Linked DNA regions of Homo sapiens: region 2 is linked to region 1. Evidence: fine-mapped expression QTL. Tissue or cell type: lung. Region 1 holds a variant in brackets; the other region holds the start of a gene. All regions are shown on one strand. Distances are between the middles of the regions.

The links. PIP is the estimated chance that this variant, and not a neighbour inherited with it, causes the effect.
Region 2: TMOD1 starts here. The variant in region 1 is fine-mapped to the expression of TMOD1 in lung (TOPMed, PIP 0.95).

The regions. Positions count from the first base shown.
Region 1 is chr9:97,537,659-97,545,764 of GRCh38, forward strand. The region is part of intron 2 of TMOD1 (tropomodulin 1); the gene reads left to right. Among named protein-coding and RNA genes, the nearest start is that of TMOD1-AS1, 25 kb to the left of the region's middle. The variant A/G (reference allele first, on the strand shown) is at 4,591.
Region 2 is chr9:97,496,808-97,504,913 of GRCh38, forward strand. It overlaps TMOD1 (tropomodulin 1), which reads left to right and starts at 4,859. Exons shown (of 10, transcript NM_003275.4): 1 at 4,859-4,996. RefSeq lists a silencer at 4,676-5,395, an enhancer at 6,782-6,926 and a cis regulatory region at 6,845-6,862.

The sequences.
Region 1 (8,106 bases):
ATCAGGAGTTGGCAACTGCACACAGGAAAAGTTGCCTAATTTCCACCTCTATAGTCATTTTCAAGAACAAATTAAACTTTGTATTTTCAAAATTTAAAAAATTCTAAATTTAAAACCTATGTGTATACCTCTTGCTTTCTCTAGCCCAACACCTGATATGGTCAGGATACTCAGTAAATATTTGAGAAATAAATGAATGAATATTTTGGCTTTCTTACATGGAATCTTAGTTTGCTAGGAACCTTAGATCAGATGTGGCATAATGGCAGTTTATGGGCTGAGTCTGCCTTGCAGATATGTTTTATTTGGCCTGAACATTGTTATTAAAATATTTGGACTACGTGTCAATATTTTAAAATCAAGAGGTTTCACACAAAACTGAGCAGATCTAATAACAACATCCACATTCCTACATGTCAACAGTCCGCTGGAGCTGGGTAGTGTGGAGGCATGAACGCTCTAGTATGCCCCAGTCCCCAACACTCCCACGTAACTCACAGCTATTATATAATTTTAGCCTAAGATCAGAGATAATCTAGAATTTCCTCCTCCTTAAAACCTGCGCTAAATTTCCTATCAGGTAATGATAAAAAGATCATCCAGGTATTAGTCACTGACCTCCTCAGATGAGCAAATTTCCAATTGTTAAATAAGGACATAAAGATATCCTCAGATTCCTATATACAAATCTCACAACCTGTCTTTGGGGTAAGGATGTTTGTGTGACAAGTGCATGTGACTTTCAGTGCCTCTCATGAATTGACGGCTGCTTTGGTGGAGTCAGATTGATGCTTCCCTTTGAACTAACTACAAAAAAAAAAAGCACTTGCCCAGCAAATTTATCCTGTGCACATTTTAAGATTGAGATTTAAATTCCTTATAGGTTAAATGAGTTCAATTTCCCACAGGCACCATGAAAGTGTACCTTTAAATGTAATGTATAGGCTTGTTATAGATTCTTCTTTGCTATTCAGTAAAGTAGACCTTCCCCTCCATTTAGGATCTTGATTACCATGTGTTTAGTGAATAACTATGTGTAATTAAGATTTTTCTCTAGGCCAGGTGCGGTGGCTCATGCCTGTAATCCCAGCACTTTGGGAGGCCAAGGTGGGTGGATCACGAGATCAGGAGTTTGACACCAGCCTGGCCAACACAGTGAAACCCCATCTCTACTAAAAATACAAAAAAAAAAAAAAATTAGCCGGGCATGGTGGCATGCACCTGTAATCCCAGCTACTCAGGAGGCTGAGGCAGGAGAATCACTTGAACCTGGGAGGTGGAGGTTGCAGTGAGCTGAGATAGCACCACTGCACTCCAGCCTGGCCAGCACAGCCAGACTCCATCTCAAAAACAAAACAAAACAAAACAAAACAAACAAACAAACAAAACAGATCAACAAAGAAAAACTTTTCTCTAATTTTACTCTACTTTCTCCATTCACCTCTCATCTCCCTGGTTACTCCAATTTTTTTAATTTCTCTTTGTGGGATCATAGCCCTACATGTTAACACACTACCTGGACACATAGCATTCATTTAGCAGATGTTTATTGAATGAATAAGAAATAAGAGAATGAGAGGTGCTTTTCTATGCATACATGATCACCAAATACTCTCCTGGCCAGAGCCAACAACAGAATGGTTGTGGGAACTCTTTTCCTCACCTATTGAGTAGCCCGGGTGTGAGAGTCAGTATTAGGTTCTAATAATCATGAGAGCTCTATGGCGATATTTTCAGGTTCATTTAACTTCTCCACAAGTAATTTACATAATAAGGTAAATCACATTGTAAAACAGGCACCATTTGAAATTTGGCCAGCTCTAGCCTGGCCAGTCTCAGCATCACCGTGAACCACTGGCACATGAAGAGCCCTCTTGCCTCAGCATTCCATGACCATTTGGTGCAGTTACTGCATTAGCCACTTTTATCATTCTCCCATAGATGAACATATGCCATTTAAAAAAAACAGCTTTTTTGAGATACCATTCACATAGCATACAATCATCCACTTAAAGTGCACCATTCAGCCCGGGTGAGGTGGCTCACGCCTGTAATCCCAGCACTTTGGGAGGCCGAGGCGGGCGGATCACGAGGTCAGGAGATCGAGACCATCCTGGCTAACATGGTGAAACCCCGTCTTTACTAAAAATACAAAAAATTAGCCGAGCATGGTGGCAGGCGCCTGTAGTCCCAGCTACTCAGGAGGCTGAGGCAGGAGAATGGCGTGAACCTGGAGGTGGGGAGCGGAGCTTGCAGTGAACCGAGATCATGCCACTGCACTCCAGCCTGGGCAACAGAGTGAGACTCTGTCTCAAAAAAAAAAAAAAAAAAAGAAAAGAAAAAAAGAAAAAGAAAACAAAAATGCGCCATTCATTGGTTTGTTCTTTTAGCATATTCACAGAGTCGTATAACCATCATGATCAATTTTAGAACATTTTCATCACCTCAAAAAGAAACCTCATGCCCATTAGCTGTCACTCTCCATCTCCCTTCAACCTTCCCAGCTGTATTAACCTGTTTAGGCTGCTCTAACAAAATACCACAGACTAGGTGGCTTAAACAACAGAGACTTATTTTTGCACAATTCCGGAGGCTTAGAAGTCCCAGATCAGGGTCTTGAGGGGTTAGTTTCTGGTAAAGACTTTCTTGCTGGCTTACAGACAACAGCTTCTCTCTGTGTGTTCTCACGGTGACTGGTTGGGGAAGGAGGTGTTGCAGCAGCTCTCTGGTATCTCTTCTTATAGGGACACCAATCCTATCAGATCAGGGTTCCACCCTTATGACCTCATTTGACTTTAATGATCTCCTTACAGGCCCTGTCTCCAATTATAGTCACTCTGGGGGTGAGGGCTTCAACGTATGAGTTGGAGGCACACATTCCAGTCCATAACACCAGCCCTAGGCAACCACTAATCTACTTTCTGTCTCTACAGATTTGACTGTTCTGTACGTTTCATATATTGTATGGAATTGTATAATACATGGCCTTTTGTATCTGGCTTCTTACACTTAGTATGATGTTTTCAAGGGTCATTCACGTTGTAGTACTACGTTTTTTTTCACAGCTGATAATATTCAATTGTATGGGTATACCACATTTGTCTTATCCATTCATTAGCTGGTGAACATTAGACTTGTTCGTACTTTTGTTATTATGAATAATGCTGTTATAAATGTTCGTGTACAAGCATTTGGGTGGACATACATCTGCTGCATCATATGGTAACTTTATGTTTAACTTTTTGAGAAATTGCACAACTATTTTCCAAAAGGGTTGTATCATTTTACATTCCTACCAGCAGTGTATGAGAGTTCTAGTTGCTCTATATTCTCATCAGTACTTGTTATTATCTGTGTTTTTTTATTATTGCCATCCTGCTGGCTGTGAAATGGTATCTCATTCTGGATTTGATTTGCATTTCCCTAATGGATAATAGTATTGAGCATTTTTTCATGAGCTTTTTGGCCATTTTTATATAATCTTTGGAAAAATGTCTATCCAGATCACTTGCCCATTTTAAAAAATTTATTTATTTTTATTTTTATTTTTTTGAGATGGAGCTCTGTCACCCAGGCTGGAGTGCATTGGCACAATCTCAGCTCACTGCAATCTCTGCCTCCTAAGTTCAAAGGATCCTCCCACCTTAGCCTCACGTGTAGCTGGGACTGCAGATGTGCGCCACCATGCCCGGCTAATTTTTGTATTTTTAGTAGAGACGGGGTTTCGCCATGTTGGCCAGGCTGGTCTGGAACTCCTGACCTCAGGTGATCTGCCTGCTTCAGCCTCCCAAAAGTGCTGAGATTACAGGCATGGGCCACTGTGCCCAGCCACTTGACCATTTTTATTTTTTATTTTTTATTTTTTATTTTTTTTTTTGAGACAGTCTCACTCTGTTGATCAGGCTGGAGTCTAGCGGCGTGATCTCAGCTCACTGCAACCTCTGCCTCCTGAGTTCAAACAAATTTCATGTCTCAGCCTCCTGAGTAGCTGGGATTACAGGCATGCACCACCACGCCCGGCTAATTTTTGTATTTTTAGTGGAGACAGGGTTTCACCATGTTGGCCAGGCTGGTCTCAAACTCCTGACCTCAGGTGACCCACCCACCTTGGCCTCCCAAAGTGCTGGGATTACAGGTGTGAGTCACCACGCCTGGCCCATTTTTAAATTGGGTTATTTGTCATATATTATTGAGTTGTAAGAGATTTTTATGTATTCTAGATATGAAACTCTTATGAGATACATGATTTACAAATATTTCCTCCCAATCTGTGGTTTGTCTTCTCACTAGTGTCCTTCGCAGCACAAATGTTTTTAATTTTAATGAAGTCCAAGTAATCTACTTTTTTATTTTGTTGCTTATTGCTTTGATATCTTATCTAAGAAACCATTGCCTAATCCAGAATCAGAAGGATTTATGCCTATGTTTTCTTCCAAATGTTTTATAGTGTAGTTCTTATATCTAGGTCTTTGATTCACTTTGAGTTTTTATATATAATGGGAGATCACATGCTGTTTTTGAAAACGAGTTAAAGTGGTAAACAATCAGGAGTTTAAAAATATGCATCTATCTTTGGTTTTACTGACAATC[A/G]TGTGATATTTTGTTAAACATACCATTTAATAGAAAGAAAACAAACTTTAACCTCTAATGAGGCTGATATTCTCAATATTTACTTTAAAAATGTGATAAGCTTAGAGTTATTAGAAAAGGCCTTTGACATTTTTGTTTTTACAAATCAACTGCTTTCAATAAAGACTTGAATAAATGAAGCCATATTTTTATGTTATGTAAATAATATTTTTGAAATACATTAAAAAATCTGTATTATATAACATGTTATAATTATATGGCTTTTTGTTTAATGCAGTGGCTCTCAATCAGGGGCAATTTTGCCCCTCAAAGGAAATTTGGTGGCTGGGCATGGAGGCTAATGCCTATAATTCCAGCACTTTGGGAGGCCGAGGCTGGTGGATCACCTGAGGTCAGGAGTTCAAGACCAGCCTGACCAACATGGTGAAACCCCGCCTCTACTAGAAATACAAAAATTAGCCGGGCATGGTGGTGGGCATCTGTAGTCCCAGCTACTGGGGAGGCTGAGACAGAATTGCTTGAACCCGGGAGGCAGAAGTTGCAGTGAGCCGAGATCACGCCACTGCACTCCAGCCTGGGCAACAAAGTGAGACTCCATCTCAAAAAAAAAAAAAAAAAAGGAAGAAAATAAAAGAAATGTGGCAATGTTTGGAGACATTTTTGGTTGTCACAACTGGGGGCAGTGCTACTAGCATCTAGGAGATAGAGAGCAGAAAGGCTGCTAAACAATCTCCAGTGGGTAGAGTGGCCTCCACAACAAGGAAGTGTCCAGCCCAGAATGTCAGTTGTGCTGAGGTTGAGAAACTCTGCTTTAACTAAATCCGTGGCCTCTACCAGATAGATTCGAAAAGAGATGAGAGTTTGCAAACCCTTCTCCCCTCAGTTACAACCCCTGAATTTCTTCTATCGCAATACTTAGCCTTTCTGGGGCCAGAACATGCCCCAGCATCTTACTGCCATTAAAACCCTTTATGGTAATGAAAATCTGTAGGCCTTCCCTGTGGGGATCCTTAAGAAGCATGAGCACTTGCTTTCACTGCTTAATTCATTTTATAATTGTGTGTTTTAGTTTTTTGAATTTATATTTGGATAATACATTCCCTGTTAAACATACATATTTGGGTAACCAATCTCCTATTAACATATATTCTACCTGATTATATAACAATAGAAGGGATCATAAGTAATAATTTTTGACCGTTTACTATGTTAGGCACTGTGCTGAGCACATTTTCTGCATTATCTAGTTTAATTTTCTCAACCACTCTATGAGAGAGCAACTCTCATTATTCACATTTTACAGCCATGGAAACTGAGGCACAATGAGATTTAGGGGACTTGCCCAAGATTGTGTAGTTGTATCATTATTACTCCAAGTCAGGGCTTAAGCCTGATGTAGGGTCAACTGTGAAGTGCAGGCATGTCACAAAGACTTTGGATTATTCATTATGGGTAGTCACACATTGATGTTTGCAGGGCAGTGAGGTATTGTCTCACTCTCTTGCATCACCATAAGCTCCCTGCTGTGGAAGAGAAGGCGTGGGCACACACAGCTAGCTACAGGAAGTCCCATCAAACCTGGGACATGCCCACAGAAGCATGGCTCACCTGGGAGCATCACCTGTCCTGCCTATCATGGTGGACAATATCTGAGAACTGCTGCTTAAGGAAAAGTGGGATGTGTGGAGCATCACTTATGTTCCTGATGCCCCCCACCCCAAAGTCAGTCAGGCCTTGATTTTCTACCTACTGTCCTCTCATAAAAAGCTCCAACTCCCAGTGTCTCTTTTGATCTGTGGCCTAAATCTCTCTGCAAGTACACCAGCACCACCTGCCAAGCCCATTATCTGTCTGTCCGGGCTCTGTGCTGGGTGGGCCCTGCTCACTTACAGCCCTCCCAGAGGCAGGATCACACCCCGGTCTCCTGATCTTACAGCCACTACTCTTACTGAAACAGCACTGTGGTGTTATGCATAGTACACCTTTTAAAAAATGATGCATTAGTTAGGCCAGATGTGGTGGTTCATGCCTGTAATCCCAGGGCTTAGGAAGGCCGAGGTGGGTGGATCATGAGGTCAGGAGTTCAAGACCAGCCTAGCCAATATGGTGAAACCCTGTCTTTACTAAAAATACAAAAATTAGCCAGGTGTGGTGGCATGCGCCTGTAGTCCCAGCTACTCGGGAGGCTGAGGCAGAAGAATTGCTTGAACCCGGGAGGTGGAGGTTGCATTGAGCCGAGATCACACCACTGCACTCCAGCCTTGGTGACAGAGAAAGACTCTGTCTCAAAAAAAAAAAGTAAAAAAAATTAAAAAGATTCCTTAAACAGTAGTATTCCCTCCCAAGCTGTATCCCTCTATGTGCCAGGCATACAGTGATCTTCATATCCCTGATAACAGTCCCCTCACAGAGGCAGCTTTCAGAAAAGGATATGGAGTTTGTGACAGTGACTGAAGATATGCATTTTAATGGTACAAAGATTGAAAGTGGGGCTGGGAACGGTAATCCCAGCACTTTGGGAGGCCAAGGCAGGCAGATCACTTGAGTTTGGGAGTTCGAGATCAGCCTGGCCAATATGGTGAAACACTGTCTCTATTAAAAATACAAAAAATTAGCCGGGCGTGGTGTCAGGCACCTGTAATCCCAGCCACTCAGGAGGCTGAGGCAGGAGAATCGCTTGAACCTGGGAGGCAGAGGTTGCAGTGAGCCGAGATTGCGCCACTGCATTCCAGCCTGGGTGCAACAGAGCGAGAGTCCATCTCAAAAAAAAAAAAAAAAAGGTTGGAGGTGGAATGACTCTTCAGTTTAGTCAGTTTGAGGGTGCATATCTTTTGGGTGATGTTCTGCCCATACCAGCCACCCATGTATTCCTCTAGCTCTGCAAATGCAGGGAACAGGGAGCACACAACGATTAGAAATGGTCATCCTCCTCTCGTAAATCTGAAGAAGAACGCTGGTTTTTGTTCTAGATCTGTCCTGAAATTCCTTGGGCAAATCTTTCCTTGCTCTGTGCCTCAGTTCCCCTAATGGGAGAGTGTGTGCACTGATGATCTCTAAGCATCCTTGCAGCTATAAACTTCTTTGACTCCCTAAGGTACTGGGGGCTGAGTTAAAGTGAAGCCCATGAGGATAACTCCAATCCCCCCAATAGGAATCTGCTTTAGCAGTAAGCCCACACCTAGAAGCCTGCTTATGTTTGAAGAAGAGAAGGGAACAATTGGTTGATGTTATGTTTCTTGAGATACCCATCTCCAGGGGCGACGTTCAAAATATTTAACCACCAGTGTGTTGTGAGCACAGACCCGTCAGGAGGTTAGAAGGCAGCGGGTAGGGCCAGCAGGGACTGTGGCCAGAGAGCATGCCCCGTCCTCCTCTTAGCTCTGCAGGGCACTGCTCACCTCGCTGCTTTCCTGGGCCTTTCTCCAGCTTTTTTTTTGGTCTGCCTCTTCCTGCCTGATTCTCCATCCAGGGCCCCAGCTTAACCCTCTTTTGGCTTCTTCTCTCTCCGGAGCCACC
Region 2 (8,106 bases), 41 kb before region 1:
TGATTTGTAGTGTCTGAAAATTCTCATATTGTAAATGGTCCCACCATTGTTGATTTTCAGCTAATAATATGACAAGACTGAATGTGGAGTTGGGAAGAGACTCACCTAAGCAGCTCTTGAGACCGCATATGACAGGCTCTCCAGCACACCACCGTCTGAGCATCCACAGCCGTCAGAATGGCATCTTACACACATCAGGCACTCCTTTTGTGCTTGCTAATTGATGGGCAGATAGATTGGCAGACAGGTTATAGGCTTTAGCAGTGGTCCAAAGATGAGGTGGGGAGGCCCTGGACTAAGAGTGGAGCAATGGTGTTGAAGAAAAAGTGTTGATGACCTTGTAAAGTTTTTAATTACAATTATTAGACAGCTTAGATACAGATTGGGAAGAGTGAAGCCAAGTCTTAAGGTATGAGAGCCTAGGACCTTACTCAGATGGAGTGGGGGAGTGGGAAGCTTAAAAATTTGATTTTGAACACACTGAATTTGAGCTAATAGACTTCCATGTGAAGATATGCAGAATCTTGGAAATGTGGAATAAACTTCAGGGGCAAAAACCAGGCTGGAAATAAAAATTCTCAATGTCATTTGTTTGTTTTTATTTGAGAAAAATCCAGAAACAAATGAGAACAGAAAGAGGAAGGTAGAGACCAAATATTTGAAGTTTTTCATTTTAAACATGTCAAAATTATCTCTAGCTTTTTAAAACTCAGTATTTACAACAAGTGATTCAAAATTCAGGAGTGCTGAATGCCAGTGATTTATCACTTATGATGAAATAAAAATATCCCAACACAGAAATGTTTAAGTGAAATAAACTGGTATGTTTTTAATAATTGTTTCATTCTCTAATAAAAAAATGGAAAAATCCTCAAATTGTCTACAGGTTAGGAAAAGGTTTCTATTTCACTGACTTTAGAAATGTTTCCATTACTTTTATTTATTTATTTATTTATTTATTTATTTATTTATTTTTTGCAAGGCAGAAGAATTTTTCTTAGTACAGAACAAAATGGAGTCTCCCATGTCTACTTCTTTCTACACAGACACAGCAACAATCTGATTTCTCTTTCCTTTCCCCACACTTCCCCCGCTTCCACTCGACAAAACCGCCATCGTCATCATGGCCCGTTCTCAATGAGCTGCTGGGTACACTTCCCAGATGGGGTGGCGGCCGGGCAGAGGGGCCCCCCCACCTCCCAGACAGGGCGGCTGGGCAGAGGCGCCCCCCCACCTCCCTCCCGGACGGGGCGGCTGGCCGGGCGGGGGCTGCCCCCCACCTCCTGGAGGGGGCGTCTGCTGGGCGGAGACGCTCCTCACTTCCCAGATGGGGCGGCTGCCAGGCGGAGGGGCTCCTCACTTCTCAGACGGGGCGGCTGGGCAGAGACGCTCCTCACCTCCCAGACGGGGTGGTGGTCGGGCAGAGACACTCCTCAGTTTCCAGACGGGGTCGCGGCGGGGCAGAGGCGCTTCTCACATCCCAGACGGGGCAGTGGGGCAGAGGCGCTCCCCACATCTCAGACGATGGGCGGCCGGGCAGAGACGCTCCTCACTTCCTAGACGGGATGGCGGCCGGGAAGAGGCGCTCCTCACTTCCCAGACTGGGCTGCTGGGCAGAGGGGCTCCTCACATCCTAGACGATGGGTGGCCAGGCAGAGATGCTCCTCACTTCCCAGACGGGGTGGCGGCCGGGCAGAGGCTGCAATCTCGGCACTTTGGGAGGCCAAGGCAGGCGGCTGGGAGGTGGAGGTTATAGCGAGCCGAGATCACGCCACTGCACTCCAGCCTGGGCAACATTGAGCACTGAGTGAGCGAGACTCCGTCTGCAATCCCGGCACCTCGGGAGGCCGAGGCTAGCAGATCACTCGTGGTTAGGAGCTGGAGACCAGCCCGGCCAACATGGCGAAACCCCATCTCCACCAAAAAAATACGAAAACCAGTCAGGCGTGGCGGCGTGCGCCTGCAATCCCAGGCACTCGGCAGGCTGAAGCAGGAGAATCAGGCAGGGAGGTTGCAGTGAGCCGAGATGGCGGCACTACAGTCCAGCCTCCGCTGGGCATCAGAGGGAGACCGTGGAGAGAGAGGGAGAGGGAGAGGGAGACTGTGGGGAGAGGGAGAGGGGGAGGGGGAGGGGGAGGAGTCCATTACTTTTTAAAATAAAGCAATAGATTGTTTCTTGATGTAACCACAAAATTAGTGCTAAGTCAGTGTGACACAAACAAATGAAATGTGAATGAACCCTTCCTCATACCATATTCAAAAGTCAATTCCAGATGGATTGAAAACCTAAACATTGGCCGGGCATGGTGGCTCATGCCTGTAATCCCAGCACTTTGAGGTGGGCGGATCACTTAAGGCCAGGAGTTTGAGACCAGCCTGGGCAACGTGGCAAAACCCTGTCTTTACCAAAAAATTAGCTGGATGTGGTGGTGCACAACTGTAGTTCTAGCTATTCAGGAGGCTGAGGTGGGAGGATCACCTGAGCCTGGGAGGCAGAGGTTGTAGTGAGCCGAGATCGCGCCACTGCACTCCAGCCTGGATGACAGAGACCCTGTCTCAAAAAAAAAAAACAAACAAACAAAAAAAAAAAACAAAAAACTAAACATGAGGCTGGGCACAGTGGCTCGCGCCTGTAATACCAGCACTTTGGGAGGCTGAGGCGGGAGGATTGCTTGAGCATAGGAGTTTCAGACCAGCCTGGGCAATATAGCAAGTCCCCTATCTCTACAAAAAACATTTTTTTAAATAGCTGGGCATGGTGGCTCATGCCTGTAATCCCAGCACTTTGAGGGGCTGATGTGGGGGTTAAGGGGTTGGCTTGAGCCCAGGAGGTTGAGGCTGCAATGAGCCGTGATCACACCACTTTACTCCAGCCTGGCCAACAAAGCGCAAGACTCTATCTCAAAAACAAAAACAAAAACAAACAAACAAAAAACCTAAACATGAAAGGCTAAGGTGGGAAGATAACATAGGAAGATAACTTTATAACCCAGGAACAGGAAAGAGTTCTTAAACAGGACACAGAGTGCTGCCAATAAGGGAAAAGATTGCCAGACTGTATTTAAGAACACCTGTTTATCAAAATACGTTAATAAGGTGAAAAGGCAAAAGAGTGGAATATAACTGAGGATACACACACCATTGAATCTATTCAATACACAGGACTATCCAGAAGAAAAATGGACAATAAATCTGAACAATTCACAAAACAAATCCAACTGGCCAATAAATATGAAGTGATACTCAACACATTAGGATATAGGGAAATGCAAGTTTGAACCTCAATGAGATACCATTACTCACATATCAGAATTTCTAAAGTGTTTCAATTTTTGTAACTTCAAGTGTTGTTGAAGATGGGAAACTGCACTGTACAATGGTACTATAACTTTGGAAGAGTTCAGGCTTATCTCTGCCGAAGTTGAGGTTAGGCTTTCTCTATCACCCAGCACTTCCAACAGCAGGCTGTGCGCGTGGACAGGAGGATTCTGGCAAGGAATGTTCGCAGCAGCACTATTTGTAATAGCTAAAACCTGGAAACAACCTAAATGCCCATTAATAGTCAAATGGATTTTTTTTTAAACTGTGGCATATTCATACAGTGAAAAACTACAGCTGCATAAAACCACAGATTAACAACAGATTTGAACAAATGAAGACATACTACAGAGGGAAGAAAAAAAACAAGGACATGATCACCGTAAGGGTCAAGAAAGTGATCATCTTTAGAAGGGAGTTGGGACCCAGGAGGGACAGGTTGGCTTCTGGGCTGTAGGCAATGTTCTCTGAGTGACTGGTTGCACAGGTGTTCACGTTGTAAAAAGTCATGAAGCTGCACATTTATTTTGTTTACACATACAACATAACTTATGTTGTATGTTCTTATATGTTCGATTCACAACAAAAATGTTTTAAAATAATCTGAAATATTAGATCACTGCTTATTTTTAAATGTATGGCATATACCCCTTGAAAAGAGCGTTCTCATTGTGAGGACTTTAGAGAAATTCATTTTCTTGAGAAACAAAATTTGGTTAATGAGTGTTTCTCATTAATAATCTATACATCAGGATTAAGAGCTGATTTTATTAAGGTCTACCCTACCAAAAGCTTTCCCATAATAATCCAAAATAAGACGTTTTCCTATTTCTATATAAATTCCTTTGCATGAGACATTTGTTTATTAAAACACTTAAAATTGTATTTGGAATAAACCACCTAAAGTGGTTTGTTCTGAAAAAAAAAAAAAAAAAAAAAAGCCTTTTAAGAACTTGGGTCTTTTTGTTGTGGTCATTTAAAATCAGTATTTTAGACACTCCACTCGCTCTCAGTGTAGAGAGAATGTATTCGATTGCGTGTTGGAACTACGTGTAGACAAAACGATCGCGGTTAAAGCTTGCGGCTCAGAGCCCACCTGGCCGCGCTGCTGGGAAACGGACGGAGCGGCGCTTCAATCAGAGGTGAAGGTGCAGCAGCTGCTTAGCTGGCTTTGGTCCATCACTTCTGGGGACTTCAGATTCTCAAAATCTTAAATTCTAAACCCCACAGGAATGCAAATCTGCCCACCTTTTCCCACATAACTCTACCGTCGCTCAAACTCTTCCTGGTACCAGCGGGGAAGCGGAGGAGACCCAGGCAGGGGCCCGCGCTCGCTCGGCTGCAGCCCGACTCCCCTGCGCTCCCGGCCCAGGGCCGCGTCCCGACGGGGAAGTGCGCTGCGCCCGGGCGCCCCCGAGTGGAGGGGGGGGGAAGGAGGGAGCCGGCGGCGGGCGGGGCGGGGCGCGGTGACAGCCGAGCCGGGCCCGCCCCTGGCTCCCACCCCCGAGCCCACAGCTCCCGCCCGCCCGCGGCCGCCCGGGAGCTCGTCCAGCCCCGCGCTGCGCTCGCCCGCCCGCTGCCCGCCGGAGCACCGCGGCCTCCGCCCGCGTCCATCTGCCCGCCGCCCGCGCCTGTTCCGCAGCCCGCGTCCGCGCCGGCCCCACAGCTCTGCGTCCGGGTAAGCCCCCACCCCGCCTGGGGTCCCCCTCGCGCTCGCGGGGCTCCCTGCCCCCGCTCCGGGGCCTCAGCCATATCTGGGCAAAATATTCAGCTGTCGCCGCCGCCGCCAAGAGGGACTGAGCGTGGCTCCCTCTATAAATAGCTGCCGCCTCGGGTTGCCTCTGGGGCTAGGGAGCCCGGGTCTCGGGGTTCCGAGCCCAGCGCTCCCGTCCCCGCCTCCCCGCGCGCGCAGCCCTGGCCAGGGCGCCCTCCGCTCTGGACCTCCGCACCGCGTCTGTGAACGCGAGAAGGACCCGGGGTTCTGGAGGAGACGGCGCCCCGGGCTGGGGTCCTGGCGGAGGGGCGCCCCCGCCACCCGCAGGACTCCAGCGCGGCGGGGCTCTGAGCCCGCGGGGTGCTCAGCTGGGTACAGGTGCCAGCCGGAGCTGGGCTCGGGGGCGCGGCCTCTTCTCCGCCTGCAAGAGTCTGGGGGTGGGAGTGGGGGAGTAAAGGCTCGACTGGACGTGGATCCCAGGTTCGCGCTGAGAGTGTTTGGGGCAGGTGAAGTTTCCCAAACTGGGAGAGACAAGGTTTAAAGCACCACGACACGCGCTACGCGGCCAAGTGGAGCTGGAAAGAGCTTGGAGGCGGGAGCCCCAGGTTGTCGCCGGCTCTCGGCATGGCCTTGGCAATCCCCCTCTTGTTTCTGGATCTCAGTCTCCCATTTGTAGGGGCGAGGTTTGGTAGCCGCGATGGAGCTGGGAGCCCAAGCCCTGAGAGCTGCAGGGCGCGCTCTTGGCCGCCTGCGCTCCCCACACCTGTTCACCCTCTCCGGGCCTGGGACGCTGGGGTCCCAGCCGCGCACATGCGGAGACGCTGCAGAAATCGGAGACTGACTGCCCCAGACTCGATCGTATCCTGGGACTCACTAAGGCCGTCGGATATCCTAAGCCGTACAACCCTAGGAAGTGCACTTTTGGGGTGCCTATGGGCATCTCTCTGCTCCGTAGCCGGCAAAGCAGCCTGTGAGCCACGCAGCTTCAGATGCGATGAGCTGGGCAGGGGCAGTGGTTCCAGTACAGCCGCTCCCTGGCCACAGTTTCCCGGTCTATATCGGGCCTATGATGCGTCCTCCAACCTGCGCAGCGCCGCCCCCTCCTACACCCTTCACCCACCGCTACTATTACAGACCCTGTCTCCAGCCCTCGCCCTATGCCCTCAGACTCTCGGAGACGACCTGGCCCAAGCTCCTCCGTGTCTGAATCGCAGAACCAGACCCTGAACCCAGGTGCTGGGCCCTCAGCGTGAGAACCCCTAGGGCCCCCACCCCATCTTTCTTCCAGAGGTGACTGCCATTTTGTCCTCTGTGCAGGGCCGCAGAGCCCCCTGCTCAAGGTCACACAGGGCCGGTCACGCCAGAAGTTCTGCAGTCTCCCAGCCTTTCCCATCTCTTTCCGCACCCTTCCCACTGCTCAGGCAGGTCCGGGAGCTCTGGGAGCACCCGATCAATGCCCCCTCTTCTTGAATCTGCTGCTGTTCTGGACTTTACCTTGTCTGGACAATAGCGCCCTCATCCTGAAGTTTCCTTTTTGCTTCTACTTTACTTTCTGTTATGTGTTTTTTTCTAAAGCCATCTCAAAGACTTACAGAAAAAAGAATTAACGGGAAATGGAGTCAGATAATAAAGTTTCCATCAGTTAGAGCCACACAACCAACAGGCAGAGTGAAAACAAGAATACTGTCACTTTGGTGTATTATCTTTAATGAGCTAGTCTTACAAACCCGTGTTTTAGAGAGTCATTGACCCTTGAGTTTCTCCCAGCCTAAGATGAAAGCCAGTGTCCTCTAAAAATAGCCTCCGCCCCACCTTATCAGGGTCTCACACCTTCTCCCTCCTTCAGGGTAGGGCGTTTTCTTGCAGCTCAGCAAAAACAGAAAACACAAAGTAGGTGTGGCAGCTCTGAGCAATGGGAGGTGGACTGGCCTGGAGGTTAGGATATCTGGCTCCAGCCCCAACTCTGCCACCCACTCAGAGGAACCTTGAGCAATGAGGGGGCAGACAAGGTGGTCTCTAGTGGACCTGGAGTGGAGAGGGCTTAGAGTCTTCCTTGGAAGCCTTTCTAGCATGACCCATCCTGTAAGGAGGAGCTGGGGAAGGAGTGAGAGACAGTGGCTTTCCCAGGTGCCAAGGGAGGACAGAGGTGGGCAGTGTCACTTGCTGTGGAGAGACAGGAGTAGGGGGATGAGGACTGGGAAAAGACCATCAGGATTGGCAGGGATCATGAGTGACTTAGACCAGGGTATTGCAGCAGGCTCAAAAAATGAGATCTGCCAGTGACCCAGCCTGTCTGAGCCTCGTTTTCTCCTCATACAATGGAGACAACAATAGCCCCATTTCATAGGGGCTGCTTGTGAGAATTAAGTGAGATGATTCAGGGCAAGCCCTCAGCCCAGAGCCTGATATTGCAATGATAGTATTCGTTGTGGTGAGGGGGAAAGGCAGGAGCTAACAGGAGCTGAAGAAGTTCTCCACTTCTTCAGGCTGTAGGCTGAAGAAGGCTCTCAACAGAGCCAGCAACTCTTTCTAAAAGCTTGGATGAGAAAGGAAGGGAGAGGGAAGGTAGCAGGAACTGAGGACAAGGAACAGAAGGGAGGCAGGCATTCTAGGATAAAGAGTATGGCAAGTAGTGAGAAGAACCCAGGAGAGGGGAGAGAGTTAAAGGGGAATCTAAAAGGTGTGCCCATAATGAGGATTGGGGACCTTCCTTAGTGACTTGCAGAATGTCACAGACTCTGCAGGTGGCCTTCATCCCCTGGAATGAGCAAAAAAAGGTAAAACGAAGCAGATCCTGGCTCAGACCCCTATGTCTCTGGCAGACCAGTATCTGCGATGGAGGATGGTGATGGGCTGTGAAGAGTGTTTTGACCCTGCTCTGGGGCCTCATAACCTTGGCTTATTTATTTCTGAAATGACATCATCTATCGATGACTCCTGCTGAGCCCGGTCGTAATGGCCTTTTCCAGTCAATGTTTTGACTTTTCAGTCTTACTAATGGACCAGCCAGGCTGCCAACATTTCTAAAGAGGCCAGTTTACTTTTCCCTTAAAGCCAGAACACCAGATAAATCA